Linked DNA regions of Homo sapiens. The protein of the gene in region 1 interacts with the protein of each later gene in a pairwise test. Each region holds a gene or a part of one and is shown in the gene's direction. Other genes may lie near its edges.

Region 1 (3,811 bases):
GTGGTTTTAGATCAGAGTTTTGTAACCCACGTCTTGGTCAGTTATCACCCTCCCTATAGTAACTAAAATAGTACGTTCTGCTTTGAAGGTGTCCCTACACCACACCGAAGATACTCACCTTGTGGAGATTGGAAGGATGCCAGCTCTTTAAATGAGACATCGTTTTTGCTTAACGTAACTTAAAAATGAAAAACAGAGCTTTTGATATTAATTGAAATAGTGAGAAAATAAATGTATTTAGGTTATTTTTTTGTGGAGCATGAATGGAAGTTAAGACAGACCTAATGACCTGATTTACAGAAATTGAGTCAGTACAAATCTTAACCCAAATATCAGCCTGTGTTCCCGTGCTGGTTTTGATTTTGCCATTATGTTATATTGTGTGTCCTGCTGCAGGAGACCAGTACTTCTTTTGCCTCAACCCCTACTTGTAGTTTCGAATTACCAAATGTTTAAATGCTGTGTTGTTGTTATTAGAATTTATCTAATTTTCTTGTATCAGAGATTCAGAAGGCTCCTTTAGTTTAAGCTTTTCAAAAAAAATTTTTTATTTGACAGACGTGCTCTGTCCCACAGGCTGGAGTGCAGTGATGTGATCTCAGCTCACTGCAACCTCCACCTCCCAGTCTCAAGCAATCCTCCCACCTCAGCCTCCTGAGTAGCTGGAGACTACAGGTGTGCCACCATGCCCTACTAATTTTTTTTTTTTTTTTTTTTTGAGACAGAGTCTAACTTTGTCACCAGGCTGGAGTGCAGTGATGCAGTCTCAGGTCATTGCAATCTCTGCCTCCTGGGTTCAAGCAATTCTTGTGCCTCAGCCTCCTGACATAGCTGGGATTACAGGAGTATGCCACCACACCTGCTAACTTTTGTAACTTTAGTGGAGACAGGGTTTCACCTTGTTGGCCAGGCTGCTCTCAAACTCCTGGCCTCAAGCAATCTGCCCGCCTCAGCCTCTCAAAGTGCTAGGATTACAGGTGTGAGCCACTGCTACTGGCCCCTGCTAATTTTTTATTCTTTGTAGAGACAGAGTCTCACTATTTTGCCCAGAATGATCTAGAACTCCTGAGCTCAAGCAATCCTCCCACCTCGGCCTCCCAAAGTGCTGGGATTATGGGCGTAAGCCACCATGCCCAGCCCAGATTTCTAATAGAGGTAGATTTTATCATGCATCTCTAAGTTACCTGAAAGTCCTGCTATAATTGTTCTAGGCATTTTCAAACTTTTGAGAAGCCTAGAAGTATACAAACTAAGATGTTAAGACACGTTGTATGGCCTGGCATGGTGGCTCACGCCTGTAATCCCAGCACTTTGGGAGGTCGAGGCGGGCAGATCACTTGAGCTCAGGAAATCGAAACCACCCTGGCCAACATGGTGAAACCCCGTCTCTACTAAAAATACAAAAATTAGCCAGGCGTGGTGGCAGACGCCTGTAATCCCAGCTACTTGGGAGACTGAGGCAGGAGAATCACTTGAAGCTGGGAGGTGGAGGTTTGCAGTGAGCTGAGATCGCACCGCTGCACTCCAGCCTAGACAACAGAGTGAGACTCCATCTCAAAAAAAAAAACGCATTGTAATAACTATTCCATTTCTTAAATTGGAAGGCTGTATGTTTTAGAATAAACTTCCAAGTAATATCTTTCTTTTTCTTTACTGTGGCTTTTGTAGGCTTTTCTTTTTTAATTAGACAATTTGTTCCTCACAGATAGGGTTGATGAAGAACGCTTGGTAGGTAAGCACCTGTGTGTGAGCCGAGTCATTCATAAAGAACTGTTCACAGATAGGTTGATGAAGAATGCTTGGTAGGTAAGCGCCTGTGTGTGAGCCGAGTCATTCATAAAGAGCTGTTCACAGATAGGGTTGATGAAGAATGCTTGGTAGGTAAGCACCTGTGTGTGAGCCGAGTCATTCATAAAGAGCTGTTCACAGATAGGGTTGATGAAGAATGCTTGGTAGGTAAGCGCCTGTATGTGAGCCAAGTCATTCATAAAGAGCTGTTCACAGATAGGGATGATGAAGAATGCTTGGTAGGTAAGCGCCTGTGTGTGAGCCGAGTCATTCATAAAGAGCTGTCCTTGTGTTGGTCTCATGGGCATCGTGTTTCCTCCGCAGAGCCAGCCCCAGTGCCTGCTGAGCCGTTTGACAACACTACCTACAAGAACCTGCAGCATCATGACTACAGCACGTACACCTTCTTAGACCTCAACCTCGAACTCTCAAAATTCAGGATGCCTCAGCCCTCCTCAGGCCGGGAGTCACCTCGACACTGAGGGCCCTCGGTGTGAAGATGAACCTTCCACCGTCTTCACTGCATCCTGGAGTGCAAAAATAAAATCCACTCAAGAGTCACAAGGCCCGCTGTGCATAATCGGTTTCACTTTTACCTTTTTTTTTTTTTTTTTTTTTTTGAGACAGGGTCTCACTCTGTCACCCAGGCTGGAGTGCAGTGGCACATTCTCGGCTCACTGCAACTTCCGCCTCCTGGGTTCAAGTGATTCTCCCACCTCAGCCTCCCAAGTAGGTGGGATTACAGGTACTCACCACCAGGTCCAGCTAACTTTTGTATTTTTAGTAGAGACAGGGTTTCACCATGTTGGCCAGGCTGGTCTCGAACTCCTGACCTCAGATGGTCTGCCCACCTCCGCCTCCCAAAGTGCTGGGATTACAGGCGTGAGCCACTGCGCCCGGCCACTTTCACACTTTTTACAGTGAGTGGTGAATTAGCAACAGTAACACTGATTATCCAACATATATTTTGGAATATCTACTATGTGCAAGGAATTTTTCTTAAACTCTAAGGTTATGAATCACTGGGCAAATCCATATAATTAGAGAATTTTAAGTGCTTTAGAGCGGTGTGATTCTACTGTGCTCAGCCTAGTCAATTTCGCATTAAACTGATTATCAGCTGAGTATCAATAATGTAATAGTGACTTCTTTTATTTTTTTTGAGATGGAGTCTCTGTTTCCCAGGCTGGAGTCCAGCGGCACAATCTAAACTCACTGCAACCTCCGCCTCCTGGGTTCAAGTGATTCTCCTGCCTTACTTAGCCTCTTGAGTAGCTGGTACTACAGGCTCACGCCACCATGCCTGGCTAATTTTTTTTGTATTTTTAGTAGAGATGGGGTTTCACCATCTTGGCCAGGCTGGTCTTAAACTCCTGACCTCATGATCTACCTGCCTCAGCCTCCCAAAATGCTGGCATTATAGGCGTGAGCCACTGCACCCAGCCAGTAATAGTGACTTCTAATCCTACAGCCCTGGTTTTTGATCATTAGAAACAGGAGTTTTGGCCAGGTGCAGTGGATAATTCCTGTAATCCCAGCGCTTTGGGAGGGCGAGGCGGGTGGAGCACCTGAGGTCAGGAGTTGAGACCGGCCTGGCCAACATAGTGAAACCCCATCTCTACTAAAAATACAAAAATCAGCCAGGCATGCTAGTGGGTACCTGTAATCCCAGCTACTCAGGAAGCTGAGGCAGGAGAATCATTTGAACCTGGGAGGCGGAGGTTGCAGTGAGCAAGATCGTGCCATTGTACTCCAGCCTGGGCAACAGGAGTGAAACTCAATCAAAAAAAAGGAACAGGAATGTTACTAATTTTAACTACTGCATTGCAAACAAATTGTATTGCAGTATTTTACCATCAGAAAAGGAAGGGAATTGTTTTGTTTGCCTCTGTTAGATATTTTATATAAACTTGAGGACATTTTCATTGGTGAGATTCGGAAGAGGTGAAGTTTCTTGCAGTACAGGGACGAAGTAGGAAGAGGTGAAGTTTCGTGCAGTACAGGGACGGAGTAGGAAGAGGTG
Region 2 (3,811 bases), on another chromosome or scaffold:
TGGCTGGAGTGCAGTGGCGTGATCTCGGCTCACTGCAATCTCCGCCTCCCGGGTTCAAGCGATTCTCCTGCCTCAGCCTCCTGAGTAGCTGGGATTACAGACGCCCACCACCATGCCTGGCTATTTTTTTTTTTTTTTTGTATTTTTAGTAGAGATGGGGTTTCACCATGTTGGCCAGGCTGATCTTGAACTCCTGACCTCAGGTGATCTGCCTGCCTTGGCCTCCCAAAGTGCTGCGATTACAGGCATAAGCCACCATCCCTGGCCTTTTTCATTTTTATTTTTTGAGACAGGGTCTTGCTCTGTTGCCCAGGTTGGAATGCAGTGGCATGATCATGGCTCACTGCAGCCTCAGCAACCTCCTCCCCACGAGCCCAAGCCATCCTCCCTCCTCAGCTTCCTGGCCTCCTGAGTAGCTGGAACTACAGGCACATGCCACCATTCCTGGCTAATTTTTGATATTTTTTTGTAGAGATGGAGTTTTTCCATGTTGGTCAGGCTAGTCTCAAACTCCTGGGCTCAAGTGATCCCAAAGTGCTGGGATCACAGGCGTGAACCACTGCTGCTGGTTGAGTGGTGTTTTTTCTTAGCTCTGCTGCAGAACCCCACTCTCTGGAGGCCTCTTGCTCCTGGTGGGGAAAGCTTCTTGGTTTACCCCTGAGACCTCCATGTGCAGTGGGCATTTAATTCAAATTGGAGATCTGGCTGCAATCCAGTCCACACTCCTCTCTCCAAACCAAGCACCCTGGCCAGGGATGCAGCCACAAAGAGGGAAGGGCATCTTCTAATTTGTACCAAGGAGCTGTATGTGCCAGCAGCAGCCTTGCTGGGGCCCCAGGGTTCAATGTTGCTATCCTGTTTCCAGCCTTCCCTGTTTCTCCTGAGATGCTCAAGCTGAGAGCCATTGCTCCAGACCCAGGACTGCCTAAACATTGCCTGGGCTCAGTTCTCCCTAGACCCTCACGAGCCGTCACCTGTAATTACAGCTGGCTTCCATGGGGGTGGTGTGGGCAGCCTCCTATCTACTGTATTTGAGAGACTTTCCCAAAAGGACCTCAAGCCCTCCCGTCTCAAGTCTTCCTTTTTCCCAGGGGTCCTCTTTTCACATGAGGATGGCCTGGGATCACAGCCCCTGAGGACCCTGGCAGGATAACTGGGCAGCCCTCTGCCTTTTTCTGACCCGGAGAGCCCGGAGCCTCTGGCAATGTGGTTGCAGAGGTGATGACGACAGACAGTATGCAGCGCTCTGTGTTTCCAGCAGAGGCCAGCTGGCCTGTTCCCATCTGAGTTTAAGGTTCTGCGACTGTCTAGTCTCCCCTGCTGCTCTGGCGGACAGAGGTTGGCCGGCACACACAGTGTGGGGTGGGGTGGGGACAGGAGGTGTTTGTGCTCCTCAGCTGGCCCTCGGCTCACCTACCGCATCTGGGATCTTGCAGATTATGCCAAGGAGCACCTGGCTCAGCTTCAGGAGAAAGCTGAGCAGATCGCAGGCCGCATGCTCCGCTTCTCCGTCTTCTACCGCAACCATCACAAGGAGTACTTCCAGCATGCCAGGTATGGGCGCGGGCTCCCGGCTGGACCCGCCGGGCCTCTCCTCCCTCCCAGCCCTTCCTGCTCCTGTCCTGGCTGTCTGAGGTCACCCCCACCCTCGTGGCTGCCAGTCCCTCCTCTAGGGTTGACATGTCCTGACGTCACCAGGCTGGCTCTGAAGAGACTGCTACTTTGGGGATTGGGCTCAGGGAAGATCAAGGGCTCTGGGGACAGGGCCTTCTGCAAGAGTGTTGTACTAATGAGCCTGGGAGAATGAGGTCTGGGTTTGCTCCCACTCTGGGACAGTTCCTTTCACAGGGGTCTACCACCACAGGTCTCTCCGATTCAGGCCCTGGGGCCAAAGGGAAGGTGGCAGGGAGTGCACAAAATGAGTGTTCTGATCACAAAGGGTTCGAGGAAGCACCCAGCTCGTCGGTTTTCAAACTGGGTGCTCCCTCCAGGGAGACATGTCAGTGAACCCCTTAGAATGCTGCCATGGGGTTGGGGGGACCAGAGGTTGAGGCTTGGTGGGCCCCACACCTGACCTCCAGTCAGAGTAGCCTCAATTTTATTTGCCTGTGACCCTTCCACGTATAATTTCTTTTGGGGATAAAAAGAGAGTTGCTGCAGTCCAAAAGTGTTTGAAAATTGGTGATCTGATCCAACACCCTCAGCCTACAGAAGAGGAGCCTGAGGCCCAGAGGGAAGCACTTGTTCATTCGAGCCAGGGAGTCACTTGTTACTGAGGACAGCCAGGACCAGGCAATGTGAGGCAGGACCAGGAGTACCCACCATCCCCGGGCCTGCTGGCAAGTGCTCCAAGGCCGCATCCTTCTGAGGCTCAGCCAGGGCAAGCAGCTGCTCTGCCTTTTTTTTTTTTTTTTTTTTTGAGATGGCGTCTTCTCTGTCACCCAGGCTGGAGTGCAGGGGCGCGATCTCTGCTCACTACAACCTCTGCCTTCTGGGTTAAAATGATTCTCCTGCCTCAGCCTCTTGAGTAGCTGGGACCACAGGTATGCGCCACCATGCCCGGCTAATTTTTGTATTTTTAATGAAGTGGGGTTTCACCATGTTGGCCAGGCTGGTCTCAAACTCCTGACCTCAGGTGATCCGCCCACCTCGGCCTCCCAAGGTCCTGGGATTACAGGCATGAGCCACCACGCCCGGCCTCTGTCTGTCTTTATCCTTACAGTCAGGGCAGTTTTAACCTCAGGGCAGTGAGGACCTTGGGAGTCTTTGGGGTTTGTATTAAAGAAGCAAGGCCTGCTTGGTGGCTCAAGCCTGTAATCCTACCACGTTGGGAGGCCGAGATGGGATCTCTTGACCCCAAGAGTTCAAGACTAGCCTGAGCAACATAGTGAGACCCCAGCCTCTGCAAAAAATTTAAAGAATTAGCCGGGTGTGGATTGCTTGAGCCCAGGAGTTCGAGCTTGCAGTGAGCTGTGATTGCACCACTGCACTCCAGCCTGGAAAGCAAGTCAGTGGCCCAGTTTGGGCTCCTTTATCAGCGAGAGTGGGAGAGATAGAGAGCACTCATGGGTGCCAGGCACCTTACTTGGTGCCAGGATGTAAAGATAAAGGCACAGTTCACTCTTTTGAGAACCTCAGAATCCAGTCAGAGAGACAGTATGGAAAGATTTCATGTAAAAAGTACGTGTAATTGTTGAGCACAGTTCAGTGTCCTGGCCAGGTGAAGTGGCTCACACCTGCAATCCTAGCACTTTGGGAGGCTGAAGCAGGAGGATCACTTGAGGCCAGGAGTTCAAGTCCAGCCTGGGCAACATAGTGAGAAGATTGGGTGTCCTGCACATAGTAGGAAGCCAAAAATTTGTCAAGTGCAGGTGTCTGCTGTTCCTGGGAGGTTTTAGAGGGGAGCAGACGCTTGACTGAAGCTTGAAGGCTAATTAGAAGTTTGCCAAGCCAGACGGAGGAAGGTGGAGAGGGCAGTCAGTGCAGCAGAGGGAAGAGTCCTGCATAGGGGTCACGGAGGCAGGAGACTGTGTGTGCAGGGGGTGGGTAAGTGGATGGGGTGGCAGGAGGTGGGGAGTGGCAAGGAGACCACAGAGATCAGATCATGAGCCGCCGTGTTTTTCACACACACCCCATCAAAGGGTTTCAAGCTGGGGAGTGACAGCTTCATATCTCTTCTCTGAGAAGGAGTGGGCTGGTTGAATCCCTCTCCAGGGCCCTCCCTGCTCTTGCATTCTGGAATGTTCTATTTGCGACTAGTGGAGGCGGCTGGGGGAGGGCTGGGAGCTGGGCTGGCTTCCTCCCTCCTCGA

Evidence for each region.
Region 2: the proteins of NDUFV3 (region 1) and PHYHIP interact in a two-hybrid assay, tested with the Homo sapiens proteins (one large-scale study listed by BioGRID and IntAct).

The regions. Positions count from the first base shown.
Region 1 is NC_000021.9:42,906,752-42,910,562, forward strand, and holds part of NDUFV3 (NADH dehydrogenase [ubiquinone] flavoprotein 3, mitochondrial isoform a precursor), read left to right. Parts: intron 1-88; coding exon of another isoform or gene 89-151; intron 152-2,112; coding exon 2,113-2,270; 3' UTR 2,271-3,811. UniProt on the Homo sapiens protein: Accessory subunit of the mitochondrial membrane respiratory chain NADH dehydrogenase (Complex I), that is believed not to be involved in catalysis. Complex I functions in the transfer of electrons from NADH to the respiratory chain.
Region 2 is NC_000008.11:22,221,969-22,225,779, reverse strand, and holds part of PHYHIP (phytanoyl-CoA hydroxylase-interacting protein), read left to right. Parts: intron 1-563; exon of another isoform or gene 564-1,338; intron 1,339-1,436; coding exon 1,437-1,554; intron 1,555-3,811. UniProt on the Homo sapiens protein: Its interaction with PHYH suggests a role in the development of the central system.